Regions from separate parts of the Homo sapiens genome. Here region 2 is linked to region 1. The links come from fine-mapping of genetic effects on gene expression. A gene starts in region 1. The other region holds a variant in brackets. All regions are shown on one strand. Distances are from middle to middle.

Region 1 (15,560 bases):
CAACAACAACAACAGCAACAAAAACAAAAAAAAACCTCTCCAGGAGCGAATGTGAGAAAATCTACAAGATCTGTAAGGACTGAGAAAAGAGAACAGGCAGCCCTGCCTTTCATCAGGCTAAGAAGACAGACGAGTAACCCACTGTGCATTCACAGGACACGTGGTTTTCCCCAAGGTCTTGCCAAAGCTTCGAAACGCCACAACGCCCGCTTGACAGATGGACTCCTGCTTTCTAACCAAGAACGCCCTAGACCCACTTGCTGCACTCATTTATGACTGGGGGAACGCAACAACCAAGGCATCCTTGCCTCCTGACGGCCCATCACCCTCAGTGAACCCCTACTTCTTCTGAGCCCCCCTCTAAACAACAACCAGTGCAGATGCGACTCCCACTTCCCTGATACATTATCAATTATTAAAACTTCATACTTCCATGAGGCCTCAGTATCACACACAGGCTGTGAGTCCCCCAAGCAACTAGGCACACTGGTGTGATAAGCCTGGTCTCTGCCTCCAGGTCCCCTTCTTGCCTTCCCCCGACTGTGACCCAGCGACATTCCAATGCACCAGTAAAATCCCCTCATACCTTCTGCTTGTGTGCCCCACCCTGACCCCCCGACACAGGTACTTGCCCACGGGTTCTCTCTCTTTCTCGACCCCCCACCTGCACTGCAGAGCCTGGGCCCTTGGCTCTCATCCAACACGGCCCTGCACGCATGCGGTGCCTCCCTCTCCAGGACCTTGGAGCAGCATAAATCCTGTACTTTCATATCATTCTTGGACTGTAATTGCTGCAGCCACTTGGGAGTGATTCTTAAAGATCCCACAAGGGAGACTTACTCCCACACTTACATCACACCTGACATCATCCTCCTCCTCCCCTCCCCCTCTTCCTCCTTCTCCTCCTCCATCCGGAGCAAACCTCGCAAAAATACTTCTCCCATTATCAAGCCATATTCCAGCCTCCTCTGGGTGCCCTCCCCCGCTCACTGAATCAAGACGATAAATCTGGTCATTTCTGCAAATCTGAATTTGTCAAGGCACAAGCTTGTCCCTGATGGTCCAGCTGAATAAACATGAACAACCCAATGCTCAAGAATAGCTCCAAATACCAATGTTTGGGGTCTTTATTTTCTTGACTGTAGCATCCAACGCTGATTTCCAGGAAAAAGATGTCATCTCTTTAGTGACAACTTGGCCACTTAAAAGAGGTACTTTCACTGGAGCCCCTGAGAGTGGGTTATGTCAGCCTACCTGCAAATCTCAAAGTGTTTTTGCTTTCAAAAAAAGAAAAAATAAAATAGATGAACAGGCCTCTGTGACAGCTGGGAGGCCTCTATAGTGAGAAAATGTCATCATGCAAAGCTGTTTCACTGAGCAGCTTCTCACTGACCCCTTTCCACAGGCCACAATAAGGGACCAGATTAATGCCTTGCTGTCCATGCCCCCTAGATGTCTGTGACTAACACAGTAAGAACTAGCACTACTATTCCTAGGACTGTTCCTAAAGCCACAGTTTATTGAGTATCTACTATGCCCAGCTTACAACAGAGCTTCTCACATTGCAAAAAGCATGCAAGTCCCTGGTGCCTGGTTAGCCGCGCAAGCTGTGGTTGGGGCCTGTGGGTACTGACAGCTCCCAGAGAAGGCAGGTGTGGTTGGTCCAGTGATGGGGCTTCACATATTTGCACACCTGTATTTGTCATCAGTCTACAAGCATATTATGCGGAATGATGACCTCCTCTGCAGGGGGTGATGTCACAGTGGAACGGCTGCCCACCTGGGGGGCGATGTCACAGTGGAACGGCTGCCCACCTGCAAAGCACTGGGGCTTTAGGTTACACATCACATTTCCTTGTGCACACTTCACTTTCCAGGTTATATATAATTCACCCTTTCCTTTGTTATCGTCCATTCACCTTTCCACTCTGCAAGATGGCCGTCTCACGCCCTCTTCCTCCTGCTCTCACATTTCACCCTCTCTTTCTCCCTGTCACTTAAGGGCCCTGTGTAGCAGTCAGGGTTCTCCAGAGAAACGGAACAAATAGCATGTGGAGTGGGGGGAGGGAAGGGGGTGGGGATAGAGAGCTAGAGATCAATAGAGAGAGATGAGGGAGACTGTTTTCTTTTAAGGAACTGATTGGCTTGCAAGTCTAAAATCTGCAGGGCAGGCTGCAGATCCAGAAAGCCGAAGCTGCAGCAAGTCGGAAGGCGCGCCGCAGGGGGAGTTCCTTCCTCAGGAGACTGCAGTCTTTGCTCTTACGGCCTTCGACAGATTGGATGAAGCCCGCCCACGCTATGGAGGGTAACCCGCTGCATTCAAAGTCTACAGATTTAACTATTAATCATATCTAAAAAACAGCCTCACAGAAACACCAGACTGGTGTTTGAACAAAAACTGAGTACCACAGCTAGCCAAGTTGCCTCATAAAATAAAACGTCACACTTGCTCCTTATTTTACTGGAGTGTTGGCAAAGTTGGAAGAAGCCTGCCCCAGGCTCTCCCTGCCCAGATGCTGTGGACATGCCTCAGGTCCAGAGGCAGCCTTCCCTGCCCTCCGGCTCCCCGTGGGCCCTGGGTGCCAGCCCTCCCTCCTCCAGGCGATGCACTGCAATTTCTCCCATCTTTAAGATGAGACCGTTTTTCTCCACAGGGCTGTGTCCACTCTCATCTCCCTTCTCTTCCAGAAAGTGCCCTAGCCCAGGAGCTCCACTGTCTGCTTTGCTCAGGGGCCTCTCTACCAGATTCAATGGGCAGTGTTCTTTCCTCATCGGATTTGATCTTGGCGCAGGATTTATCCCCCTGACCTCTTTCTCTCCTTGAAACACAGGTGCTCACTTGGATTCCAGGGCTCCACACCTGCAATTTTCCTTTTATCTCAAGGCGGCAGCAGCTCTCCCTACCCCCTTCTCTTGCCCTCGTCCTCCCTCACTTTCCTCCTCCTACTTCCCCTTCTCTCCCTTCTCCTCCACTAACCCCTTGGGCTCCCACGGTCCAGGGCTGGCATTTCGCAGGGTCTGCCCTCCCTGGGGCTGCTTCTCAAAACACACTCAACCCTCTCAAGCCCCAGCTCCTGCTACATACGGTGACTCCAGATTTCCACCTCCAGCCACAGCTTTCTATCCCAGAGGGTCATCCCCACTTGTCTCCTGGGCATCTGAAAACCAGCAAGTCCCAAATCCACCAATTCAACCCCAAACCCAACCCCTTCCTGGAAACCTGCTTCCTTGCATCTGCCATCTCTAGAAGGCCTGTTCAGTCACCCAGTTTCAGCCCCAGTCACAGCCGTTCCTCACTCCTCTAACACAGGCAGCATGCCTTCAACACAGAGCCTGGATTGGGCCTACTGTTCACCAGCTGTGCCTCCACCAGTCAACTCCAGGAACCGAGCATCTCCTGCCGGGATCTCTACAACGATTCCTAACAGAGACTCTGCTTCATCTGTTCTGCACAGTGATCTTGATAAAATCAAGATTCCGTTAGGCCACACTCCTACTTGAAACCCTCTAATGACTATAACATCTGGTGACCTGGTTCCAGCCTCACCATTCTCTCACTATTCCTCTGCCCAGCTGAGCAAGCACACGCTGTTTCCTCTGCTGGAATACTCTTCCCACACACCTCTGCTCAGGAGCCCCCCACCTGCTCTCCACTCAAATGTCACCTCCTGACAGAGGCCCTACCTGAACATCCCCAGCACACTCTTCCCCACCATGTTGTATTTCTTTCATGACACCGATCACCAATGGCGTTATATTGCAGAATCGCTGATTTATTATTTGATTCCCCTCCCAACTCCTTGGATCATTCTTCTATGGTCTCCCCATGGATCGAATAATCATTGGCACATAGCAAACATTTCATAAAAACAGATACAATTGGCAACATTATATTCATACAAACCTAATACACGCACACACTGGGCATGATGATGGTGCAGTCCTTGAGCAGGGTTTACAGGCAGGATCCTCTTCCCGATGCTTCACCCGTGGTATCTGATACAACCCCACTTCATTCAGAGGCGAACACCTTCCCCACGGGCTCCTGTGCCCCCACCCAGCTCTATGCCATCCCTCTCCTCTCACTCACCAGCCCACCTTGCTTCGCACCGCTCCCCCTTAGGGCCTTTGCTGTCAAGGTGGTCTCCATGTGTCAAACAGGGACTCTGACCAACTACTTCATCTCAAATACCACCTTCACAGTAAGGCCTGCCTGCCCTCCTCTTTAATACCATGACTGTTACCAGCCCCTCCCCAGCACTCCTGACTTCCTGATGCCTCTCCACTTTCCTTTTTTTCTGTAGCACAGATCAAAGAGAGCAGGTCATGTTACTGATTTTGCTTCCTCCAATAGCCAGTTGTGTTCACAGATGTACCTGAGCACCTGGAAGGCTGGCTGCCTAGCACTCATGAGTGTACAGTAGGTACTCGGTATAGGTTTGCTGAATGACTGAATCTTTGATCCTGCACAACCATCCAATGAGGTAGACAGCATCATCCCTGTTTTCTGGATGAGGAAGTTGAGGTACAGAAAGGTTATGTAGGCCTGAGGTCACCTGGCTAGGAATTCATAGGGCAGGATTTAATCCGGGTGCCTGAGTCCAGAACCTTGACTCTGAAGCCCTGTTTTGAGCTAAATGCAGCAGCAGCATAAACAGCCCGTTTTGTGCCTCAAAAGGTGAACAGTGGGAGGCACAGCTGGGCAGGGACGTGTCAGGTCAGGGGAAGAAACTGAATTGGGTAGTGGGGATTAATTGGATGCTGTCTGCCAGCAATTTCTGCCTCCTGCATTTTATCTGCTTTAGGGTTGCAAGGGGCAGAGCTATGAACACGGATGCCCACTCAACAGCCAGTTCCTGGGCCAATCAAAGGGTTGGGAGCTGTAGCACCAGAGCTCTGGAACCCCACAGACTAGGATGTTTGCTAGAGCACCTAAGCCCTACCAGCCTTTGATGACCCCTCGGTTCCTCCCAATTCCTCTCCTCCATGTCACGGTTCCTGGCTGGTGTTCCTGAGAGTGGGCTGTACATGAGTTCTGTAAATGCCAGTCCAGTTACGTCAAAGGGGGTGGCTCTCACTTGTACCTGTAGGCTCCAGCTAAGATCTGCGTGGCCCTGCCCGGCATCTGGCTGTCATCCGGGAAACAATCACTGTTCACAAACAAGGGCTTCACTCCTTCGCTCGCTCCATCTCCTGCTAAAGTCAGAATGTGAACACTGACAAACAGCGGCTCCCAGTAACTCTGCTAGTCAGAAGTGATTATTCCAGCAGTTCAGAGGAGGAAGTGGCGGTGCCCAGGGCCACGGGATTAGAAGAGCAACGGAGCTAAAGGATCCCGTGCCTCAGTCCAACCACCTTGTTCCCACTTACTCAGCCGGGCCACTTTCTTTGGAGAAACTGATTTCCTTCTGCTTGCCCTTGAAAGGGGATCCGAAGGAAATCGGAGCTACCGGCAGTAGCTACCCTCCGGAAGACGGAGAATCTTCTCCACCTTCTCCTCTGCGTAGGAGAATCCAATTTCGGTGCAGAGCAGATGGCGAAGGGGCCATGGGAATCAGACCTGCTCAGGGACCGGGTTCGCACTTTCTCTCAAGCTCTGGAGCCTGAAAAATGAGCATTCCCCGGGGACGACCCATGTAAGAATTTGGGCTATATTCAGCATAGTGCAGCGGCCAGCAGCCCTGTCTCGGGGTGGGGTCCGGAGGCCCCCATTTCTGCTTGCCCCTCACTGCCACATAACCTTGGGTCAGAGTCCCTCATCCTCTCCCTCCGCCACTGTGCACAGCTGCAACCGTGTTCACTTCAGCGAGCAACGAGCCCCGTGACCCCCACTCAGGGTCAGGACTCACCGCAGCCCCTCTGCGCAAGCCCCGAGGCTCTGCGTGGCCTCCGGATGCGCGGCCTTTCCTAACCCGGGGACTCCGCACGTGGGCGCCAGGCCCGGAAGGCGCGGATGTGAGCGCTACCTTCGGCGTCCCGCAGCGGCAGGAGGGGCTGGGCGGCCCGGGCTTCGGCTGGCGGCGGGGGGGGGGTCGCAGGGGAGTCTGAAATGAGGCGGCCGACGGCGCGCGGGGCCTCCTCTCTCCGCTCCATCCCGCACCCCCAATTCCAGCTTCCATCCCCAGCCGCGACTCCCGGTCGGCCGTTCCGGGCGTCCACTGGCCGCGTGTCCTGGGGGCGCCAGAGAAGGAGAACAGCGGAGAAAAGAGCCCCGGGCCGACCTTCCGGACCGGCGGGCCCGCGGGGAAGCCCGGGCGCGGCGACGTGGCTGACCCACAAAGCCCCCGGCCCGGCGGCCAGGCCCAGGCGCGCGCGGAGCGGGGCGGGCCGGGGGTGTCGGATGTCACCCCCAGCGCACACCTCGGCCGGGGGGCGGGGGAGCGAACCACTGAGATGCGGAGACCTCCCCAGTCCTAGAGCGGAGCAGGAAGTGTCCCAGGGGAGGGAGCCGGAGGGCTCCGGCCTTTCCTTTCCTCGGCGTCCGGCGGGCTCCCGCGGCGGCCAGGCCTGCGCCGCCCGCCAACAGGGACGCGCCGCGGCGGTGAGTGCACCCCGGCTCCCGCGGCCGGCCCCGCCCCGCCCTCCTCGGCCCGCGCCCGGCCTCCGCGGCGCCGCCTCCCAGCCCAGAGCCCAGCGCTCAGGAAGGTGCGGGCGGGGGAGAAAGCAACACCATTGTTTTTCAGGCGCCTCCATTTGCCCCCGAGCCGAGCCGTGGCTTTCCGGATGATCGGGAGACGCGGTCTGGACGGGCCGGGAAAGGAGCCGGGCGCCTGCGGAGACCCCGCCTCAGCGAGTACGCCCGGCCGGGCGGGCTGGGAGGATGAGGACGGCTGCCCTGGACTTCCGCCGCCACAGGAGGGTTTTCGGCCGGACGCCGGGAGGGAGCTCCAGGCTGTGAGGTGAGGAGCCCGGAGCCGGCGAGACGGGAGACGCGCGTGTGAGGGAGACCGAGGGCGCGGAGGGCGGGCTCCCCCTTCCCTGGCCCACAGCGACCTTCTCCTTCCCTTTCTGCCGATCCAGCTCGGTCCCTCCTCCGCGAAAGGCTGGGAGCTCGCTCCGCCCCTGCGGGGCCCTCCTCCGCCTCACTCACGTTAGTTCATTCATCAGGCATCTCCTCCGAGCCTCCGACGCGCCAGGTGCCGCCGTGACAAAGACGGACGCGGCCGTCTGGTTGGAGACGATCCGAGTGGCAGCCCGGGTGGGCGCCGGTGCTCGGGGGGGCGGGCCTGAGTAGTCCTGGGCGCTGCAGGTGTGTGATGGGCGCCGCAGGGGGCCGCCGAGCAGGGCGGGCGGGGCCCACCCCGGGCTCCAGATGCCGGAGCCGCCCTGGAAGCGATCCGGTGGTGGGGAGCGCTGTAATGCGTCCAGCCCGACGCCGCCACGGCCCCCATATGGGTTTCTGTGTATGTTGTTACTTTGGAAAGCAAAGAGATTCAGAGCAGTGGGTGTTTCTGGAACCACTCAGTTGTTCCGTAGCTTTTCTGGCATCACTTGTCTTTCTGTGAAATGGGAGTGAGGCCCGAGTCCCCCTTCCCACCTTGTGAGCTGTTGGAGGTTAAGACGCGGCCACGCTGGACAACCTCGTGCAGATGGGGGAGTGGCAGGCACTGCCGGTCCTAAGGATCACAGAGGCCTGATGGCAGAGAAGGGGACTGTGAGTGTCCCCATGTGCCCTTTCACGGGCCCAGCGTTCTAAAGTGGGAATCATAAACACCAGGTATACTGGTTGCTGGTCTCTTGCCACCCTAGTTGTGGCAAAAGTGTCGGCTAGTTGTCTGCACACCAGCGGGGAGGTGTAGGGACCCCTGAGTCCCACCTTGGGGGTGTGGCAGCTGCAGTGTCCAGGGGTTCTTTGAGGGCTGAGCTGTGCAGTGACGGACCCACTTTTCTGTCCTGGCCGAGGAAGGGCTTTGGCGAGTGTGCAGTTGCCTTCAATGTGGTTTGAAGAGGGCAAGGATAGAGAATAGGGTGGAGGCGAGGTTGAAGGTCAGGGCAGAATTGGCAGAAGGCTCATAGGAAACCACTGATACTTCTAGATGCAGTGTTATTTGTCCCTGGTAGACTGCATGTAGCTGTCTCATGTGATGTTTTCCCTTGCCTCCCATTGCAGACTCTGCTGGGCAAAGCTGATTCTGGCTGGGTTGTCCATCCAGCACGCAGCACCATCAGCCCTCTGCCACCAGAAGGGTGGATTTTCCATTCCTGGATGTGCTTGAAGGCTCATCCGATGCATGTCTTTGTCATTCCAGCTCCATTTGTAAAGGTCTTAATAACAAGAACAGTGACTTCGGCTCCGGAGCTTCAAGATAGTGGCCTGCTTGGCCTGCCCATCTCGGATCTCTCCAGGAGGACCCAGCCACCCAAGGTACCAGAGCGTCTTGATTACATCTGCATGTGGCGCTGTTGGTTTCCTGGGATGCTCAAAACAGCAGTGTCACGTTGAAATGCCACCACTTTCTCCCAGATTTCCTGTCTTGTTCATCCAGTCACCCACTTAACGGGAATCCACACGTAATGGTACTGATGGGGGGAGGGCATCTTTCTGTCTGTTTCATCCTGTGTGTAAAGACCAGCCACACCAACACTCCCTACCTTTCCCAGGGCTTCTCCAAAGGGCTGGTCTCTGAGGGCATTGACAGTTTCCTTGTCACTGTCCCCCAGAAATGACCACAGGAGACCAGAACACTGAAGCCAGTGATTTCTGTTTGGAAATAGGGTCGTCTTCTGCTGCTGACCCCCATCAAATCCCATCATGCCCACAGCCCTGTGCCCCCGAGTCTTGGCTCCGAAGGAAAGTGAGGAGCCCAGGAAAATGAGGAGCCCACCTGGAGAGAACCCTAGCCCCCAGGGGGAGCTTCCCAGCCCCGAGTCCTCTCGGCGTCTCTTCCGCCGTTTCCGCTACCAGGAGGCGGCGGGCCCCCGGGAGGCCCTGCAGCGCCTCTGGGACCTGTGCGGGGGCTGGCTGCGGCCTGAGAGGCACACCAAGGAGCAGATTCTGGAGCTGCTGGTGCTGGAGCAGTTCCTGGCCATCCTGCCCCGGGAGATCCAGAGCTGGGTGCGGGCGCAGGAGCCTGAGAGCGGAGAGCAGGCTGTGGCCGCGGTGGAGGCACTGGAACGGGAGCCCGGGAGACCCTGGCAGTGGGTGAGTAGAAGAGGTGGGGCTGGGACGGGTAGAGATCTGGTACTTAGACACTTTGGCTGGGCCATGCATGTGCTGGCTGGGGAATGAGGAGTTCCATCGAGAGCCATTTACTTTGGTTAGGTCCAGACTAGAGTTTCCTAAGAAAGCCAGTTTTACTCCCTGAAGGCTCTAATTTGGGCATGATAGTGTCGTGCCCCTTTACAGCCCAGTCCAAGGCCTAAGTTGAGCCTTTGATGGTCAGCTGTGGAGTGGATGGTCACCAGGCCCAGGGAGAGATGGGACCTCTTCCCCTAGCCCTGAAAAGCTGTCTCTGGGATTGCAGCTCAAGCACTGTGAAGACCCTGTGGTGATTGATGATGGGGACAGCCCTCTGGACCAGGAGCAGGAGCAGCTGCCGGTAGAGCCCCACAGCGACCTTGCAAAGAACCAGGATGCCCAGCCCATAACCCTGGCACAGTGCCTGGGGCTCCCAAGCAGACCACCAAGCCAGCTCAGCGGGGACCCAGGTATGCAGCCCAGGGGAGTGTAGCAGGGGTGATCTGGGGAAGTGCACACCCCATACTGTGCACTGGGTGTGGTTTTTGTTAAGCTGATGGCTTTTACATCAGCAGTGTTCTCGTGTCCCCGAGGTGCTGTGAGCTGTTGTCAGGGTCTGAGTCCCTTCCTAGAGCAATTAAATGAGAACCTCATCAGGATGTTTGTCCTCTTCATGGTTCTAGAGCCTCTCAGAGCTAACGCTTCTGTAGGTGGGTGTCACTGAGGTGGTGCCCTCTCATCTCTTCGAGGGTGCATCTCTGCAGGATTTGTCAGTTTGATGACAGCTGGGGACTGCCAGTGTACAGCTGGGGCCTGCTGCATGACTGGAGCATGGCCATTTCTTGTCTCTTGGAACCTCTGTTTCCTTGGCTAAACAACTCCTGTTTACAGGAGTATTGTGATGCTGCGAAGAGATGTAGAAATACTTAGGAGGACACAGGGTGGTGTCTAGTGTGTGGGGCCAGAACATCAGCTACACATAGTTTGAGTATGTATATGAAGTACATGGTAGCTACAGGAAAGTAGTTTTTTCATCAGATAAACTTAGATTTGAATCTTCTGGTTATGACCTGAGGCATGTTTCTAAACTCTGAAAGCCTCAGTTTCTTCCTCTGTCCAGCAGAGATAGTAATTACCTTTTTTGGGGTTTTTGGACAATTAAATGAGATACAACCTACAAAAGGTTGAACACAAGGCCTGAGGTGCCCAAAACTTTAAGTACATATCATGGGAAACCAGCGCCCTTGGGTTGAAGGAAGTCTGGCCCGTGGGTTCCTCTGGGTGGACTTGCCACGGTGCTTTATATGTACAGTGGAAAGAGAGTGTCTGGGGGGCCAGGGGGGCTTTCTTATGACTCTGGGTGGACTTGCCATAGTGCTCTATAGGTACAATGGAAAGAGAGTGTCTGGGGGGCCAGGGGAGACTTTCTTATGACTTGCAGAAGTTGTGTTTGGCATTATGATAAGCTTTTCAGTAATAAAACCAAAATGCCTATTAAATTTCTGTGTGTGGAAAAACTATATTGACTTCTGTACAAATCACATAAACTCTTCAGCCTTTTCTTGCTTATAAATCAAGTTTGGTGTGTTGTTGGCTGCCATAACAAAGTACCACAGACTGGATGCCTTATGTAACAGAAATGTATTCTCTCACAGTTCAGGAGGCTGGAAGTCTGAAGTCAATGTATCAGCAGCCTTGGGTTCTTCTGAAGCCTCTCTCCTTGGCTTGTAGACATGCCTAATGTTAACACTAAGAGAAGTTTGCAGATAGACATTTAGAAGGAGCTAGGGGTTGGGCGCGGTGGCTCACGCCTGTAATCCCAGCACTTTGGGAGGCCAAGGCGGGCGGATCACCTGAGGTCAGGAGTTCGAGACCAGCCTGGCCAAGATGGTGAAACCCCATCGCTACTAAAAATACAAAATTAGTTGTGTGTGGTGGTGGGTGCCTATAATTCCAGCTTTTCGGGAGGCTGAGGCAGGAGAATCACTTGAACCTGGGAGGCGGAGATTGCAGTGAGCTGAGATCACGCCATTGCATTCCAGCCTGGGTAAAAACAGTAAAACTCCATCTCAAAACAAAACAAAAAAAAAGGAGCTAGGAGGGGAAGTCTCTTATGCCACTGGCTCTCTTTGGGACCCGTAAAAACCCATGAATATCCGGCCCTGAAAGCTGACAACAAGCTTTGTGCCAGGACTCTTGATGACGGGCGGTTTTCTTTCAGGGAAAGGAAGAGGAAGATGTTTACACTAAGAGAAGTTTGCAGAGCAGGTGTAACAGACACCTTCTCTCTCTGGGTCTCTTTATGTGGTCTTTCCTTTGTGTGTGTCTGTGTCTTAATCTCCTCTTCTTATAAGTACACCAGTCCTATTGGATTAGGGCCCACCCATATGACCTGATTTTATCTTAATGACCTCTTTAAAGACCCTATCTCCAAATACTCAGTCGCATTCTGAGGTACCTAAGGGTTAGGGCTTCAACATAGGAATTTGAGAGGGCCATAACTTAGCCTGTAACAACAGGTATAAGGGAAGCAGCCAGTCGCCCACATAATGCACGTGCAAGTAGCTTGGGTTATGCAGGAAGTGGGGGGCTGTGAGAGGCCTTGTAGTGGGGTCTGGGAAGGCATGCAGGTGGAGAGGAAGAAGTTTCAGGAACTACAGTAGCCTGTGCAGTTGCTTCTTGATAAAGTTCTGAGATAAGCCAGCAACCACAGATGGGCTTTAGGAAAACAGGGCCAGCTCTCCCATTTCCATGAGCAATAATCAATAGGCAAAGTAGGTATGATGAGAGTTAGCAATCAGGAAAACCTTAACTATTGGGACAGTTCATCATTGGAATGCACTACCTATCAGAGCTGTATAGTTCCTCATCTTGAAGATCTTCCCCAAAAGCTAGATTTTGTGTAGGGTCTGCAACTCTCCGAAGTGATTCTTGAAAGGGTCCATGTATTCATTTATCGGGGCCAAAAGTAGGGTGGGACTACATATTCATATATATATATATATATGTGTGTATATATATATATGTATGTATATATATGTGTGTGTATATATATGTGTGTGTATATATGTGTGTGTGTGTGTATATATGTGTGTGTGTGTGTATATATATATATGCGTGTGTATATATATATATACATATGTCTCAGCCTCCCAAAGTGTTGGGATTACAGGCGTGAGCCACTGTGCCCGGCCAACATGATTTTAAACTTGGAGAAGGGAGGGCTAGGGATGGGAAGGAGTTAGCCAGGTTACCCAGTTAGGGGGCATCTCCATTCATATATATATGAATATCTGGGATAGCTACATATCCCAGAAGGTGGCAGGTGTGAGGAAGCAGAACTAAAACACCACCTCCTAGCCAGGCATGGTGGCTCATGCCTATAGTTCCAGCTACTCAGGGGGCTGAAGCAGGAGGATTGCTTGAGGCCAGGAGTTTGAGACCAGCCTGGGCAACATAGCGAGAACCCACCTCTAAAAAATAAAACACCCCCTCTGGGAGACATCGGTCAAAGAGTACAAAGTTTCCGTTAGGTAAGATGAATAAATTCTGGAGATCTATGGTACAGCATGGTGAGGTTGATGAAAAATAATGCATCTTATACTTGAAAATTGCTAAGAAAGTAAATAAGAAATGTTCTCGTCACAAAAATATATGAGGTATAGATTTGTTAATTAGCTTAATTTAATCATTTCACAATGTATAGTTATCACATTGTACAGTTTTCGTATACAAAATACATACAATTTTTGTCAATTATAGCTTAATAAAACTGGGAGGTAAAAGTAAGTTAAATAAAGATGAAGATAGAAACTTAAAATGGAACATACACACAGAAAAATACCACCTCCTCAAATCTACGCCCATCCAGCCTGAGCTTCCCCTTCAGACACAGTGAAGAGGCTGCCTTCCACTGAGACCCCTAGAATGGCACTGCCATCTGTGTGGGCTCCTGGCCCCGTCCTTTGTTCCACATAGCCACTCCTGCAGCTGCTGTTTCCTGCAGGCTTTGTATTCCAGGTCTGAAAGGCCAGGGACACTGGCCTCTGGGGTTTGCTTTGATAATGACTTAACATGTGACCTGGGGTTAACCAGTAGACTATAGCACAGCTCTCCAAGTCTTAATCTGAGAAAGGAGTACCTTTTGAAACAGAGCTCATTTTTACATGGCTGCACTGTTGGCAGGGGATGTGGCTCATGGCAGAAGCCTGAACAAAGGGTAGTTTCCAATTCCAGGAGAGAAGAGTGGCAGAGTCCCTGGTAGCCCAAAATAAGGCTGGTGAGATGGTCCCAAAGCCACACTTTACATTTTGTATGAGGGTCTTTAGGACACTGTGTCAAATGCTCTTTCAGGAGTACCTACAGTGGTAACAGTTTTTCTTTTTTGTTTAATTTCTGTCTTCAAATTGACAAAAAAAAATTGTATGTATTTACAGTGTACAGTGTAATGTTTTGATATCTATACACATTGTGAAATGATTAAACCAAGCTACTTAGCTGGGCATGGTGGCACACCTGTAGTCCCAGCTACTCAGGAGGCTGAGGTGGGAGGATCCCTTGAGCTCAGGAGTTCTGTTCCAGCCTAGGCAACCTAGTGAGACCAGTCTCTTAAAAAAAAAAAAAGTCAAGCTAATTAATATAATGCATTACCTCATATACCTATCCTTTTTCTGTGTGTGGTGAAAATACTTCAGATCTACCCTCTTAGCAATTTTCAAGTACACAGTACGTTGTTACTGCCTATAGTCACCATGTTGTGCAATAGGACTCCTGAGTTTACTCCTCTCATGTCACTGAAATTTTGTACACTTTGACCAATGTCTCCCCAGTCCCCTCATTCCCTAGCCTCTGGTAACCAGCATTCTGATCTCTGCTTCTATGAGTTCAACTTTTTTAGAGTCCACATTTAAGTGAGAACATGCAGTATTTCTTTTTGTGTCTGGCTTATTGCTCGTAGCATGTCTTTCAGGTTCATTCATGTCGTCAAAAATGACAGGATTTTCCTTCTTTTTTTATGGAGTTCCACAGTAATTCTGATTGCCAACAGCCCTTACTTTTTTTTTTTTTTTTTTTCATTTGAGACAGAGCCATGTTCTGTCACCCAGGCTGGAGTGCAGTGGTGCAGCTGTGGCTCACTGCAGCCTCCATCTCTCAGGCTCAAGCAATCCTTCTGTTTCAGCTTCCCAGTTTTTTTATTTTTAATAGAGATGCGGTCTCCCTATGTTGCCCAGACTGGTCTTGAACTCCTGAGCTTAAGCAATCCTCCCACTTTGGCTTCCCAAAGAGCTAGGATTACAGGCATGAGCCACCACATCCAGACCCTAAGAGTCCTTATAGATTCCTCAACTCTACGGCTTTTTCTTTTTCTTCTTCTTTTTTTTTTTCTTTTTCTTTTTAAGAAACAAATACTCTGTGTTGTCCCTGCTGGTCTGGAACTCCTGGGCTCAAGTGATTCTCCCACCTCAGTCCCCAAAATAAGAATAGCTGAGATTACAGGCATGTACCACCACACACGGCTGAACTCCATAGAGTTTTAACCTTTATTTTCCCATAGTTTGGATAACAATGCTGAGGTCCGGGGACCTACCCGAGGTGAAAGAGTTCATTTAATTGACCGTGCTATCATGAACCCAGGCACACTCTGTTACAGCCCCCCTTGTTATATCTGGAAACAAAGTCGCAGCAATCTTTGTGGTTTACAGAGTACTTTTCATGTGCGTCATTTTGTAATCCTCATTTTACAGTTAAGAACAGAGACTGGGGTTTTATGAAAAGCACCATGAAACAGTTCCCTGTTGGTGCCTCTCTTGTGATTTTCTTTGCTACCAAAATGGAAATGAAGAGCCGCAGGAAGCTCAGAAGGTATCAGCACCAGGCCTGGCCCTGGCCCACTTTAGGACACCATTTTCTGATCTCTTTCAGTTCTGCAAGATGCTTTCCTTCTTCAGGAAGAGAATGTGCGGGACACACAGCAGGTGACCACCCTCCAGCTACCCCCGGTGAGTGGTTTCTACAGGAGTCCTTGAAAATCCCCTGTTTGCCTCTGTAGGCTACAGGGCAGCTTTCTTAGGACCCCAGCCAGCTTTCTGACTGCCACACAGGATGTTCAGTCCCAGCCCAGAAAAGCTAAAATAGGCAGAGCGTGAGCTTAAGAGACGCCCCATTTCTCCTCCTTCCCTGTGGTCCCAGCCGCCCACTGGGTCTACTGTCATCAGGCCACCTTCAGGAAGCTTTGTGCAGACGATAGCAGGAAACAAAGGCCCATGAGTCCCCATTGATGGGCCTCTCAGCATGTCTAAGTTCCCCTCTTGTGAAAAAGGAGATCTCTCTGCTCTTTTATTTTACAGAGAATTTTTCAATTTAATAATCATCGCAGCAATGG
Region 2 (15,560 bases), 25 kb before region 1:
ACTCCCAATCTCAGGTGATCCGCCTGCCTTTGCCTCCCAAAGTGCTGGGATTACAGGCGTGAGCCACCGCACCCGGCCACATTCTCACTTATAAGCGGAAGCTAAACGTTGGATACACATGGACATAAAGATGGAAACAATAGTCACTGGGACCTGCTAGAGCAGGGAGAGTAGGAAAGTAGGAGAGTGAGAGAGGGGAGAGGAGAAGGGGAGAGTGAGAGAGGGGGAGAGGAGAAGGGGAGAGAGAGAGAGGGGGAGAGGAGAAGGGGAGAGTGAGAGAGGGGAGAGGAGAAGGGGAGAGTGAGAGAGGGGAGAGGAGAAGGGGAGAGTGAGAGAGGGGGAGAGGAGAAGGGGAGAGAGAGAGAGGGGGAGAGGAGAAGGGGAGAGGTGGAGGGAGAGGGGGACAAGAGTTGAAAAAGTACCTATCGGGTACTATCCTCACTACCTGGGTGAAAGGATGCTTTGCACCCCAAACCTCAGCATCATGCAATATACCCATGTAACAAATCCACACATGTATCCCCTGAATCTAAAATAAAAGTTGAAATTTTGAAAAAACATAATAAATAAGTTAAAAAGTTATATTTTAAAAGAAAACTTTTTAGAGAGCTCTTGTCTCTTTTTTTTTTTTTTTTGAGACAAGGTCTCACTCTGTCGCCCAGGCTGGACTGCAGTGGCGCAATCTCTGCTCACTGCAACTTCAGCCTCCCGGGTTCAAGCAATTCTCCTGCCTCAGCCTCCCCAGTGGCTGAGATTACAGGTGCGCACCACTATGCCCAGGTAATTTTTTTTTTTTTTTTTTTGTATTTTTAGTGGAGACAGGGTTTCACCATCTTGGCTAGCTGGCCTCGAACTGCTGACCTCAGGTGATCCATCTGCCTCAGCCTCCCAAAGTGCTGGGATTACAGATGTGAGCCACCGCGCCCGGCCACTAAGAGCTCTTGTCTTAAACAGCTTTCTTATTGGTACCTATGAAAAGACACAAAAGGAATATATAGCCTTAGAAACTCCCTTAGCAGGATTTCTTTTTTTAAGGCAGAAATCAGATTTACAACTAAGTTATAAATCCTTTGTGTAGCTGGATTCACTGATTTATGCCTGTAATCCCAACACTTCGGGAGGTCAAGGAAGGCTTGCTTGAGCCTAGGAGTTTGAGAACAGACTGGGCAACATAGGGAGATCCCATCTCTACAAAATAAATAAACAAATAAATGAGTCAGGCATCGTGACACACGCCTGTGGTCCCAGCTACTCAGCCAGGGGTAGGCAGGAGGACTGCTTGAGCCTAGGAGGTTGAGGCTGCAGTAAACCATGAGCACACCACACTGCACGCCAGCCTGGGTGACAGAACGAGACTTTGTCTCAAACAAATATATATATATGATATAAAAAATATATATTTCTAACATGTATATGTTATATATGTATAATATATATCACATATAATATATATGTCACATATATAATATATATATCACATATATAATATATATGTCACATATATAATATATATGTCACATATATATATATATATATATATATATATATATATATATATATATATAGTGCGCCCAAGCTGCCTGTTTTGGATCCCCCTGGGATTTACAAAGAAGACGGGCCACCCTAATCTAGGGCCTGGGTTCCATGCTTTCACCACCACAGCCTGGATTTGATTCCCAGTCAGGAAACCAGACTCTTGGAAATGCAAATCTTTTAACTCAGGACAAAACAAATAGAAACATTTGTAAAAAGTTAGTTTGGTATTTGCATAACTCTGACCTTTTGGGGTACCCTTTCACTTTGCAATCCTGTCTATTCCCACAGACAGCTTTTGACTTCCCATCTTACAAACTGCCATGCAATCTTCCGTCTGTGGGAGATACGGGTTGTCAGGCCTTTGTGTGCAGTCAGCCAGCTGAGAGGCTGAAACCCTAGATAATATGGCCAGACAGTAGCCCCATTTGCAGCTACTAAAATTCTCCTTTATTTGAGCTGCCTGGAGTGGTCTGGATCTGAGCAGGGTTGCAACTTTTGCCTCCTCTCTGGAGACCTTGGTGAAAGCCGTGAAAGGCTTCTTGGTTCTGGTCTCCTTGGTGCTTATTTCACTTGGCGTTGAGTCATTTGTTCAGGTATACCTTTGATAGAAAACTGGTTTGTATTTAGAGTGTGATAGCAACTTTTTTCTTTTGTCTCGCTTCCTCCCGTGGGCAGAAGAGACGTGTGTCTCCCACCACTGCTGGGAAGCTGAAGAGAGGCAGGGCTCCTCCCATGAGCAGAGCGGGTGGGAGCGCTCCACAGCCGAAATTCTTTCCACTCCAGTGTTAGGCCACGTGCTCATGAAACAGAAAGCTTGCTGCTTGTGTATTTTCAACACACCCTTCTGCTTTTTCTTTTTTCTTTTAGTTTTTGGGGGATTTTTCCCTGGCAGATATATAGAGCAATGCTTTTTCTCTTTGGATCCTGTTCCTACCCTGGGAATTCTTTTCAGTCAACTGAAATTTTGTTAAAAAGCAATTTTATGTTCCTTCCATCTGTTCACTTTTTTGTTGTTGTTGTTGTCGGCATGATTTTTACTGAGAAAAATGTAAAACATCCTTGGCCTTTTTGGGAAGTTTAAAATCTTCCCAAATTGAGCCCTCTAAGAATTGTTTTCCCATTTACTGTTGGCCCTTCTTCCTTTCTGCCACCTTCAATAACACACGAAGAAATCAAGAGGGAACTTCTAGCAGTCCTGAGACCCCTTGAGAAACCAGAAAAAGGTGCCATACACCCTCCTTTTGGGGGTCTTTTGTCTTCCTCACGGAGCCCCAAGGGTCATGGGCAGGTTACTCTCAAGTCTAAAGCGCCGCAGTCTTTTGCATTGAGTTCCCTGATATTTTCATTTTTTTGAGACACAGTCTGTCTCTGTCACCTAGGCAGGGGTGCAGTGGTGCATTTGTGAGAAACACACTCACCCATCCAAACCCAAAGAATGGACTTAGAGGCACAAAGAACAGCGAAAGGGAGACTTTTCATAACGGTCTTGCGAGATCGGGTGTCTGGTGAGCAGGCACAACCAGGGCGGTCACAACGGGTAATTTATGTCCTAGCACACAAGTCCCTCCCCCAGTTCCTCACTGGTTGAGTACTGTGGGGTTACAATCTTCCCGGACATCGCCTAACTTTCATTATCCCCCTTACAAAGTTATACCCCGTCCTCTTCCCCACTTAAGTTTTGATTTCCCCATAACAAAACTTTCTTCCCTTTTATGAGCTGACCACACCTCTACATTCTGTCCACTTACTGTGACCTTCTGGGTGCATGAGCCATGTGGTTTCTTACATTTGCAGGCTGGCTGCCAGTGCTTAGACTTATCATGCCTTGCAAATGGACCATTTAAAAGGTTTTCTCACCAATTCCCTCCTCTTTTCTATTTACTTATTTTGTTCTCATTTTCTTTTAAACCCTTTTGGGCCGTGAATCGCTCCAGAAGTTGTTTACTTTCTTCCTCATAGGAGAGTGAGTTTAATTTGCTTTCTAATAGTGGCAGGTTATTTTGCTGGTAAGTCATGGGCATTTGTTTATTAATAGCTGTTTTAATTAATTTCTGTGCTAGTCCCCTCACACAAGGGATAATACAACATTCCACTGCTATTAAGAATCCTGCCACAATTATGAGAGATATAAGGATTGAAGCTACCATTCCTTTCCATTTTCCAAATCAGCCTTCTAGCCAACCCGTAAATGGGTCATTAATTCCGAGCATTTCTTCCAGTTCGTTGGCTAGAGTTGTTAGTCCTTGTAAAGCTTTTGTGATGGTCCCATTTGGGGCAGTATTGCTGGGAATGAAAGTACAAAATTTCCCGCCCAGCATAACACACACGCTCCCTTTTTCTCTAGTATCATGTCTAGCGCAAGTCTGTTTTCCCAGGCCATTTAGCTGGTGGCATCTAACTGGCTAGCCACCCTTTGAGGGCATCCCAAGTATAATTGATGAATTCCTGTTGATTATAATAGATGGAGTTAATTTAATTCGCATTCTTCTTAATAGTTGACCAGCAGAAGTGTCCTGACTTTAAACCCAGCACCTACTGCGTTTCAGGCCTTCAATTTATTAGGCAACCCTACCCCCACCAGGGTCTCCTATTGAGTCAACATACACATTGGGATTAAAAGAATTTGTGAAATCTCTCTGGTTTCAGTGGCCATGTGTATTTTGGGGTATCTTATGGGATGCCAGGGTGAAGGGAATGGCCAATGAGACTAAAGCACAAGTCCTGGTCCCATTGGACAGTAACAGGTTACGTAGGTTCCTTTTCCCATAATACTACCAGACATCAGCCCGGGGTGTATGGAGAGCTGAGTAATTGCCATTGCTCAACTCACCAGTGACGTTTAGGATGTGGGTACAAGTTGAGAGTTCTCCCATAGGCTTATGGAACTCTGCCCCCTGTCTAGAGAGGCAAGAGGAGTAGTTCATGTTCTCTGCAGAGAACGAGGGTATTGCTCTGGGATCTGAGCTCCGCAATGCAGGAAACAGCAATGAAAGACTCTTACAAGTCTTACTTCTCCTTACTTATATCATTGTGCTGGTATGCAGCCAACATGCAACACATTCCTCTAGAATCACTATTCCATCCCAGGGGAAACGGAACCACCTGCGCCTGAGGTGGTCCTGCAGCACACGCGTAGCAGTTACTTTTGCTGAGGGCTTGTACCGAAAATATGACCCATTTGACCCAGGCATTCACATCCCTATACCCTGTCTCAATTTCTAAGGTTTGCCTTAAATCCTTTACCTCAATTATTGTTACCATTTTAGGGTTAATATTTGGTAGACTAAAGTGTTTATTAGGGTCTGGGGTTGGAGTAGTTCCAGGCAAATGGGAGGTTGAGTTCTTGATTAGCCTGAGATCAAATCGACCTGGGGGTCTTTCCTTGTGATGTCTTCTCCTAACCCATATACCTGAGATGCTACTTTTGGTTCTTGGTCTAGAAAGGCTGAATTGTCAAGGGTGATGAGTATAGGATGGCATTCTAAATTCTGGCAGTTATTTGGTGGGGAGCGCTTGGACAGAGGTAGTTTATGCTTCAAGGGTTTCCAGTTTGGAGTTACCCACACCATGTTTACTGTCCAACCCTGAAATTGGGTAGCGCACCATACATCCTCCCAGCTGGGGAAGGGTGATGCCCTACTGCAACCTGCATCTGGTTCAAGGCAAAGAGATTTATCTGCCTGCGAGAGCTGTCTCTGATTTTCTAAATTCCCACAAGGTAAAACCTGACAGGCATCAAATCTTATAGTTTGGGGTGCTACCGTCTTAATCATATTAATCACCAACCTGATTGAGCAGTGGGGAGTCCCCTGCCAGTTTCCATTTTGACCTTCTGCTCTTTGTATACTAACCCATCCCAGCCTTATTACCTTTCAGAAATGCAGCCAGCCCACGCTTTCTTTCTAAATTTTTCTCAGAGTTAACTTTAAGTGTTCGTCAGGTGACCCATGCACTTCCCACTGTTCTTTCTCCTTCCCTTTCCAGGTCTCTTTTACCGGCCTCTTGATTCCAGTGTAGTGAGTCCACCCCCATTCAGCTGTTCGCAGGGCTGTCTCAGGGGCAGAGGCACTTGACAGGGACCTTCCCAGCTTGGGTGGAGCTTGTCTTCTTTCCAAATCTTAGTCAGCACCAAGTTGCCAGGCTGGAAGTAGTGAACCATGAACTCAAGAGGCAGAGCTTGCGTCAGAAGACCTTTTAACCTGAGGGATGACAGGGTGGAAGATATGGCCAGTATATCATTTCTTAAGAATTGGTTTTTGGTTTCCATAGTGGGAGGATCTGTAGCCCTGCCCAAATATGGGAGTCCATATAATAACTTGTAGGGGACAATCCCAAGTCTTTTCTGGGGACTGTCCGAATCCTAATCCTAAAGCCATGGGAGATATTTGGTCCAAGGCACTTTAGTTTCTAAGTTTAGTTTGGTGAGATGCTTTTTGAGAGTTTGGTTTATTCTTTTTACCTTTCCACAGGATGCCAAGGGGTGGGATAATCCCATCAAATTTGTAAACCTTCCATAATTCCCCTTAACACTCTTGAAATAGCTTCCTTTCTAATCTCGTGCGGTTCAAAGAAATCACTTCTCTTTTAACAAAGGGTAGCCTGAAAGTTCAGGCTATAAACTACAGATAAACAACTTAAGCATAGAAGGAGGCGGGGGATGTCTCCTGGGTAAACACCAAACTTCACACTCCCACAGTCGGGCCCAGTATAAACAGTGGGCCTTAATAAGCACATTCCTTTCCCTTTAGGCACATTAAGATAGGGAAGCTAAAGCTGACTGGGATGGGGGGGCGGTGGGAGATGCCTGCAGCTGCAAAAAGATGGCTGGGAATAGACACAGAATCTCTCCCTCCCAGATAAGCAACACAAAGAATTAGAGTATTGGCCAGGCACAGGCTCAAGCGTGTAATCCCAGTACTTTGGGAGGCTGAGGCGGGTGGATTACCTGAGGTCAGGAGTTCCAGACCAGCCTGGCCAATGTGGTGAAAGCCCATCTCTACTAAAACTACAAAAAGAAATTTGCTGGGTGTGGTGGCACGCACCCAGCTACTCAGGAGGCTGAGGCAGAAGAATTGCTTGAACCCGGGAGGTGGAGGGTGCAGTGAGCTGAGATCATGCCATTGCACTCCAGCCTGGATGACAAGAGTGAAACTCCATCTCAAAAAAAAAAGTATTATATGGTGACATGCAGGGTTCTAACAGTCCATTTTTAATTAATCCCTCTATTACTGGTTGGAGATCTTTTCTCCCTTCAACAGAAATGGGATATTGTTTTCTGCAAACTCCTCCT[G/CCTG]GTTGTTTTAGTCCAATCTGTAAGGCTGTGATTCTTAAGTGTCCCCGCTTGCCTTTCCCAAACCACAAAACGGGACTAATTTTTCTTCCCTCCTCCTCTGTTAGGAGGCCCATCCTTACTTTCATTTGTCCTTTCTGTGTATCCCTAATCCTAAACTGAATCTCACAATCAGGTCTCTACCCACTAGGTTAGTTCCTGCTTCAGGAATATATAAGAGTGACCCCTCAATGTGTTCTGGTCCCAGTCTAATTAACATTGTCTTGAATATCAGAACCTGTAATCCCTCCCCTTTTACGCCTAATACTTTCAGTTTTTCCTTAGAGAGTTCTGTACCCTTTGGTTTGTGGATTAGGGAGGAGTGAGCTGCCCCAGTGTCAACCAAAAATGTCACTTCTTCTCCCTAAGGTCCCGCCTTCCAATTTATCAAGGGTTCTTGGTGGGACCTACTCAGAAGGAAGCCCTGACCCCCATTGTATTCATCAACGGTCATGAGGGGGATCATCTCTTCTTCTTTTTTCCATTGAGGACATTCTCTCTTAAGATGCCCTGGCTTTCCACACTTGTAACATCTAGCCACTCATAGTCTTAGGAGGTTTCCCCTGCATTTCCTTTCTTTCTCTGTGTCGAAATCTATCATTCCCTTGTCTCATTTGAGGGGGATCTTGAGCTAATCTTTTTTTGGCTACCTCTTCCACAGTGGAAATCATGATGTTCCCTTTCTGTTTCTGCTTCTCTTCCCCTCTTTTCACAAAGACCTTCTGAGCTTCACTCAGTAATTCCTCAATCGGTTTCTCATTCCATCCATCAATCTTTTGTAATTTTTTTTTTTGTAATGTCAAGCCAGCTTTTAGTAACAAAGTTAATCTGCAACAGGCCTTGCCCTACTGGGTCCTCCGGATCTAATCTGGAGTATTTTCTCATCTCTGAGCCTCTGCAGGAATGTGAAGGGAGTTTTCTCTTTTTCTTGTTGAATCTCAAATGCCTTTGAGACATTTTGTGTCCTAGGAGTGTACTCTTTGATCCCTTGAATTACTAGTTTCCTGAGGTCCTGCATTTGGGCCCAGTCCCTGGGATCATTATTATCCCATTCGGGATCAACATTTGGAAATTTTTGTTTGGCTGGCAAGTCTCACTGCCCAGGAGGGTGTTGCTTCTCCCCACTGGTCATGGCCACTCTCCTAATCATTCCCCTTTCTTCTCCCGTGAACAGGATATTCATGATAGACATCATTTCAGCCCAAGTGTAAAAGCTGGGTCCTAGGAATTGGTCCAGCTGGTCTGCTAAACCCAGGGGATCTTCTAGGAGTGGTTTCATTTCCTTCTTGCAATTCCTAACTTCAGTACTTGCAAGAGGAGTGTTTACAAAGCCAATCTCTCCCTGTCCCATGGGAACTTCCCTAAGAGGGAACATGCTAGATGCCTGCTGTGTGGAAGGGATAGGGAAGTTCTCAATATCCCTCTTACACTCTTGTAATTCTTTTCTTAAATTTGGATAAGGATTTAAAGGAGCAGTTGGCTTGGCTCCCCTGTAGTCTCTGGGTCTTTCTTCCTCTAACCCTCCTGCTGCCCCTTGATCTTCCTGTCCCCTTTTTTGTGAGACGTATGAAGGGGCAAGCACGATAGGGGGTCCCAGGGCTTTTCACTGGGTGAGGGCTCTTCACCAGGCTCTTTTTCTTCTTTTTTGAGGGGGATCATGGGGGCTAATTCCTTGATTCAGCAGAGAGTAACCTATCTCTTCTTGTGAGGATGAAGTTTTATTATTCACAGAGAGAATTAAAGCTTAGAACACAATCCTCATCTGAGCCAAACTTAGGCCAAAAGACAGAAGGCTTATGAATGGGGTCTTTGGGCCAGACAAAACAGCAATACTTTATCATCTTTTCCTTTTCCTTGTCCCTGGTTCGAGGGTTGTTCCACCAAACCTGCAACAATCTCCCCAAAGGACTATCCAGGGGAATGTCAGACGGAGTCTCTTTGGCTCCCTCTTTCCTTTGGCTCCCAGGCCTAGAATTCCTGTTTCCCATTTTCTGCCAGTCTCTGCGTCTGAGTTTTTCCCTGTCTACTCAACCCCCCTTACTGGAGGTTTCTTGCACACCCCGAGACCTCCAAAAATGCCCCATGACCAAGGCAGTACTTACAGTCCAATTTTCCTTCCTTGGCTGGTGCATGAGTTTGCCTGGTTCCCGCAGTGCCTGCTTTTCTCCCTGTGTTGCTTCTGCTGCCTCCTGAATAATAGTCTTGGGTTTGTTTATGCCTTCTATGGGAAGCTGGGATGCCCAGATAGAGCGGGCCACCTAAATCAGGTGGGACACATCTCCCCTCTCGGCCAAAGTCCCACTTCACACAGGCACATGGATCCCAGATGGGCCCCCATGCTTGTGAGAAACACACTCACCTGTCCAAATCCAGAGAATGGACTTAGAGGCCTGAAGAACAGTGAAAAGGAGACATTTAGTAACGGTCTTGCAAGATCAGGTGTCTGGTGGGCAGGCACAACTGGGGCAGTCACAACAGGTAATTTATCTTCTAGCACACAAGTCCCTCCGCTAGTTCTTCATTGGTCGAGTACTATGGGGTTACGATCTTCCCGGATGTCATCTAAGTTTCATTGTCCTCCTTGTAAGGTTATACCCCAGTCTCCTTCCCTGCTTAAGTTTCTTCTTTCTTTTTCTTTTCTTTTCTTTTTCTTTTGAGACAGAATCTCACTCTGTCACCCCGGCTGGAGTGCAATGGCACAATCTTGGCAAACTGTAACCTCTGCCTCCTGGGTTCAAGCAATTCTCCTGCCTCAGCCTCCTGAGTAGCTGGGATTGCAGGCGCTTGCCACTACACCTGGCTAATTTTTGTATTTTTAGTAGAGATGGGGTTTCACCATGTTGGCCAGGCTAGTCTCGAACTCCTGACCTCAGGTGATCCACCTGCCTCAGCCTTCCGAGATGCTGGGATTACAGGTGTGAGCCACTGCGCCCAGCTCCCACTTAAGTTTTGATTTCCCTATAACGAAACTTTCTTCCCTTTTATGGACTGACCCCTTCTCTACATTCTGTTTGCTTATTGTGACCTTCTGGGTGCATGAGCCATGTGGTTTGTTACATTTACAGACTGGCTGCCAGTGCTTAGATTTATCAGGCCTTGAAAATGGACCAGTGAAAATGTTTTCTCACACAATTGAAGCAGGATATTTCCTTGACCCTTTTGTGGGCAGAAACCGGGGCGCACGGGTGCTAGAACCAGCCAGCTGCTTTGGCACCAGCAGAGGCAAACTCCATTCACTACTGCTCCACTCCTCGGAGAGGGAGCACCAGTGAGTAGGTGCAGAAGCCTGAGTGAGTGCTTTTGGGTGCTGGCAAAAGCGAACTGCATACCGGCCCCACAGCAGCATTTAGGGGAGAGTGCCCACAATCCCTCAAGCCCCAGAAGAAGTGTTACAGTGCCCTTTTAGCTTTGCCGTCCATGGCCAGCTTCAGTGTTAACAGCTCAGTGGAGGGTCAGTGTGACAGCCTTTTGCACTCACACTCATGGCACCTGAGTTCTTGCCTGGTGTCCAGGAGGAATCAGGTCACATGAATGAAAAGATGGTAAATGTGGGGGATTTTATTGCCAATGAAAGTGGCTCTCAGTGGCAAAGGGAGCTGAAAAGGGGATGGAGCAGGAAGGTAATCTTCCCTTGAAGTCTGGCCATCCCCAGCTGGACTCCTCTCTAAAGCTATGCTGTCAAGCTGTCCCTCTGAAGTCAAGCCACTTCTCAATCATATCCAACCACAGTCTGCGAAGTCCAGCTGCCTCCCCTCTCTCTGCCAGTTGAGCCTGGGGTTTTTATGGGCACGGGATGGGGGACAGAGCAGGCCACAGGTGGTTTTGGAAAAGGCACCATTTGAATGGGAAAACAGGGATGTAAGTTCTCACTTTGGGCGGCAGTATCAGGCTTTTCAGATTGAAGGTGGGGCCTTGGCTGGGGAACTGCCCTCCCAGAATTTCTCTGCCTTCTGTTCCTATGACGATCATGGCTCACTACAGCCTCAAACTCCCAGGCTCAGGTGATCCTCCCACCTCAGCCTCCCAATTAGCTGGGACAACAGGCGCACATCACCACACACCTTGCTAATTTTTTTGTACCCATGGGTTTTCACCATGTTGCCCTGGCTGTTCTTAAACTCCTGGGCTCAAGTGATCCTCCTGCCTCAGCCTCCCAAAGTGCTGGGATTATAGGCATGAGTCACTGCACCCGGTCTGAGTTTCCTGATATTTTTTGGCTTTTATGGGTACCAGGAGTATTTTGTATTGTAAGAGCACATTACCTTCGGGTGTGTTACGGCTGGTGAGTCACTGGCAAGTGTAATCTTGGAGGTGGCAGACTACAGTTGTGGCAAATGGTTACTACTATAGGGGAGTACTCATTTCTTTGAACATTTAGATAAGAAATGTGAAGTTTGGAAACTTGGAGACTGTAGGAACACTTAATACTGGAAAAAAAGATACCCATGAGAGATGGGCTGATCACACAGTGGGCTGACTGGCACTGGGCCATCCACCAGCCCAGGGGGAATACCTTTGCAGCAAGGTGCATGGTGGAAGTGTTGCTCAGCCTGGCCCATGACATTTCCCTCTTGGGCTTTTAACACAGCTCTGAGACACCCAGGACTCCATGTAAAAACAGGGTCTTTGATTTCTGAGGATCTGGGTGTTCTGCCTTCCAGCTGTGCTTGCTTTTCAAATACATAAGTATTAGGCCCTGAAAACTGCAAATGCTTTGTTGGCCCTATTCATTAATGGGCTCTGCACTGAGCTCAGTGGTGCAGCTGGAAAATGAAGACCAAATTGGAAACCACCCATTTGGAAATGGGAGTTCAGCTCCGTCTGAAATGGGGGAGGGATACAATGATTAAGGGAACCCATTTCTAATAGGTACTACATTGAAAACTACCTAAAATTGGTCTCCTTATATGCTCTTGTAAATTCCTATGATTCTGTGTTAACCTTGGCATCCATTTTTAACCTCCCTTTACCTAACACACACAAATTTCTTCTTAAAAATGTTTAAATTTGGCCAGGTGCAGTGGCTCATATCTGTAATCCCAGCACTATGAGAGGCCAAGGCAGGTGGATCACTTAAGGTCAGGAATTCAAGACCAGTCTGACCAACATGGCAAAACCCCGTCTCTACTAGAAATACAAAAATTAGGCCAAGCATGGTGGCTCATGCCTGTAATCCCAGCACTTTGGGAGGCTGAGGCGGGCAGATCACAAGGTCAGGAGATCGAGACCATCCTGGCTGACACAGTGAAACCCTGTCTCTACTAAAAATACAAAAAAAAAAATTAGCCGGCTGTGGTGGCACACGCCTGTAATCCCAGCTACTCGGGAGGCTGAGGCAGAAGAATTGCTTGAACCCAGGAGGCAGAGGTTGCAGTGAGCCGAGATCGCGCCATTGCACTCCAACCTGGGCAACAGCGTGAGATTCTGCCTCAAAAAAAACACAAAAACAAAAACAAAAATTAGCCAGGTGTGGTTGCAGGCGCCTGTAATCCCAGCTACTTGGGAGGTTGAAGCAGGAGAATCGCTTGAACCTGGGAGGTAGAAGTTGCAGTGAGCTGAGATCACTCCAGTGCACTTCAGCCTGGGTGACAGAGTAAGAGTCTGTCTCACCAAAAAAAAAAAAAAAAAAAAAAAAAGCTTAAATTCTCTCTCTCTGCTTTGAGGTGTAGATTTGCTGCCCTATATTCTCTACAACTCAGCTATGTGGGACAGATTAACTTGTTCCATTTACAGGGCCACAGTTTTAATCCAACTGTCCTTTCATTTATTTTTATTATTATTTTTTTCTTTAGAAACAGAGTCTCAGTCTGTCGCCCACACTGGAGTGCAGTGGTGCAATCACACCTCACTGCAACCTCCAACTTCTGGGCTGAAGTGACCCCACCCACCTCAGCCTCCCAAGCAACTGGGAATGCAGGCACACACAATCACACCCAGCTATTTTTTTTTTTTTTTTTAATTTTTTGGTAGAGATGAGGTCTGGCTACTTTGCCCAGGCTGGTCTCAAACTTCAGGCCACAAGCAATCCTCCTGTCTTGGCCTCTTCAAGAGTTGATGTATTAGTCATTTTCACATAGCTGATAAAGACATACCTAAAACTGGGTAAATTATAAAGAAAAAGAGGCTTAATGGACTCACAGTTCCACATGTCTGAGGAGGCTTCACAATCATGGTGGAAGGCAAAAGGCACATCTTACATGGCAGCAGGCAACAGAGAGAAAGAGAGCCAAGTAAAAGGGGTTTCCCTTTACAAAACCATCAGATCTCATGAGACTTATTCACTACCACGAGAATGGTCTGGGGGAAAACGCCCCCATGATTCAGTTATCTCCCACCAGGTCCCTCCCACAACACGTGGGAATTATGGGAGCTACAATTCAACATCAGATTTGGGTGGGGACACAGCCAAACCATATCAGTTGGATTACAGGTGTGAGCCACTACTCCTGGCCCCAAATGTCCTTTTAAATTAGTGAGTTTTTTCAGTCTCATGGCTAAAATTTTATTTTATTTTTGAGACAGGGTCTCACTCTGTCACCCAGGCTGGAGTGCAGTGGTGTAATCATGGCTCACTGCAGCCTCAACCTCCTGGGCTCAAGTGATCCTCCCACCTCAGCCTCCCAAGTAGCTGGGACTACAGGTGGGTGCCACCATGCCTGGCTAATTCTTAAATTTTTTTGTAGAGACAGGGTCTCACTGTGTGGCCCAAGCTGGTCTAGAACTCCTGGGCTCAAGTGATCCTACAGCTTTGGCCTCTCAAAGTGCTGGGATTACAGGTGTGAGCCACCACACCCAGCCTCTGCTAGATGTTTCAAAGTCATAAAACAGTTGTTTTGTGACATTTTGAATACTTGCTTGATTTGTCCGTGAGCTTATGTCTCTGGTGTTGAGCCTTTAGATTCTGGGGTCCAGACAGGTGGCCGTGGTGAGGCTTGGATTTAGTTTGGGGATCCACCAGGGGTAGATCTGATGAGATCTTGAGGCCGGGAGTTGAACACCAGCCAGGGCTTAGGTTTTATGGACACACAAGGCTTTGCATTGTGGACTTGCTCTGAATTCTTTCTTGCCTGAGATCTAAGAACCGTCTCTGGGAGCCTGGATTGGGACCCCTTTCCTGTAACAGATCTACCTCCTACTGGGTCCCCAAACCAGAACTATTCCTAGAGAAGGATGTCTCCTTTCCTCAAAAAAGAGAGCCCATAAAACTGTTGGAGGTAAGGGCTGTGCTAAAGCAAGCAGTGGTTTCTGATGGGCGGAGCCTCCCCTCACGCTTCCTGCTGGCAGATGTGAAAAGCCCTCCTTCAGAAATACGTCTATGAGTTATTTCCCAGATAAGAGCAATACACTCGGCCGAGCGCGGTGGCTCATGCCTGTAATCCCAGCACTTTGGGAGGCCGAGGCAGGTGGATCACAAGGTCAGGAGTTCGAGACCAACCTGGCCAATATGGTGAAACCCCATCTCTACTAAAAATACAAAAATTAGCTGGGCGCGGTGGTGGGTGCCTGTAGTCCCAGCTACTAGGGAGGCTGAGGCAGAAGAATCACTTGAACCCGGGAGGCGGAGATTGCAGTGAGCCGAGATCATGCCACTGTACTCCAGCCTGGGTGACAGAGTGAGACTACATCTCAAAAAAAAAAAAAAAAAAAAAAAAGCAATACACTCTCACATCTAATCTCCACCAGCCTCTTTCACTAAAAAATATCTGTGGAGACCCACCATGTTGAATAAAACATGCAGAACTCATAGGGTGAAAAACAACGGTGCAAGACCTGTTGAGAAGGGGGGGATTTCTTTCCAAGTTCAGAGGGGATGGATCGGAACGTTTTTGTCCAAGAGAGGTAACTGCCTATTTATTCTCTTCTCAAATGGAGTGGTATTTACTGGACGGGCCCCAGAAGCTGGGCCCATAACAATCCAGAGAAACTGAACTCCGAATGCTTCAAAAAGCCCTCAGTAGGAAAGACACTGGGAATCAGCGACTTTTCTGGAAAAGAGAAAAAGGGATTCCTCTTCCAAATTCACTGGAACCTGGTGAGGAGCCGTGGTTAAAGGTCACTGAGAGCTGAGCCCCAGAAGCCACTCGCCCTCAAGCGGTGATGAACTTTTCATTTGTGAATTTGGTGCAGCAGGTCCAAGAGGTTCTCTCTGGCTTATTCATTTAATTTCTGACACAAACAAAGCACTGGAACAACTGAGGGGTGAATACGGCAATTTCCCTTTAAAGGAGGTCCACTAGGAAAATTATTTACTGTAAAAATTTTTAAGAGCAACTTTCCTCCCTAGAAATGGGAAGACTGCGGTTCTGGTTAGTCCCGATTTGAATGATCTGCACAGTAATGTGGAGATAAACGTTCACCCCTAGGCCTCTTCCATTCATTTATGCCGGGAATTGGGTGAGACCCCAGCTGCACCCCTGCAAGGGAGCCAGGGCTGCAGGTCTTCCTGGGCCAAAGCTGCTGAGCGGGTGATCGGGGAGCCGGCGTCCGCTGCGGCCCAGCCTGGCGGAGAGGAGCTTGCGAGACTCAACCCCACCTCCCAAATTTCTGCGCGGATGCGCGCAGGGCGTGGCGAGATGAGCTCAGCGCCCCAGAGCCCGCCGGGCTCCAGGCCCACCTTGGAGACCCCCGCTCCAGCCGCCTGCCCCTCCTCTCCACTTCCCTGTAAGCACCAGGTGTAGGGCAGCTGCCTGCCCCGGAA

What was found.
Region 2: its variant is fine-mapped to the expression of ZNF496-DT in whole blood (INTERVAL, PIP 0.92).

The regions. Positions count from the first base shown.
Region 1 is chr1:247,322,771-247,338,330 of GRCh38, reverse strand. It overlaps ZNF496-DT (ZNF496 divergent transcript), which reads right to left and starts at 6,277. Exons shown (of 3, transcript NR_168399.1): 1 at 5,085-6,277. It overlaps ZNF496 (zinc finger protein 496), which reads left to right and starts at 6,464. Exons shown (of 10, transcript NM_032752.3): 1 at 6,464-6,541; 2 at 6,684-6,899; 3 at 8,250-8,365; 4 at 8,716-9,142; 5 at 9,465-9,648; 6 at 15,101-15,177. The coding sequence starts at 8,753. LOC124904574 (a long non-coding RNA gene) reads left to right here and starts at 1,595. Exons shown (of 2, transcript XR_007067004.1): 1 at 1,595-1,877; 2 at 2,167-2,456. RefSeq lists silencers at 570-864, 4,490-4,784, 5,897-6,376, 6,507-6,616, 7,187-7,426 and enhancers at 2,018-2,518, 6,290-6,584, 8,971-9,473, 15,194-15,560.
Region 2 is chr1:247,347,949-247,363,508 of GRCh38, reverse strand. All of the region lies in intron 1 of ZNF496-DT (ZNF496 divergent transcript), which reads right to left. Among named protein-coding and RNA genes, the nearest start is that of ZNF496-DT, 24 kb to the right of the region's middle. RefSeq lists enhancers at 331-875, 5,480-5,779. The variant G/CCTG (reference allele first, on the strand shown) is at 6,827.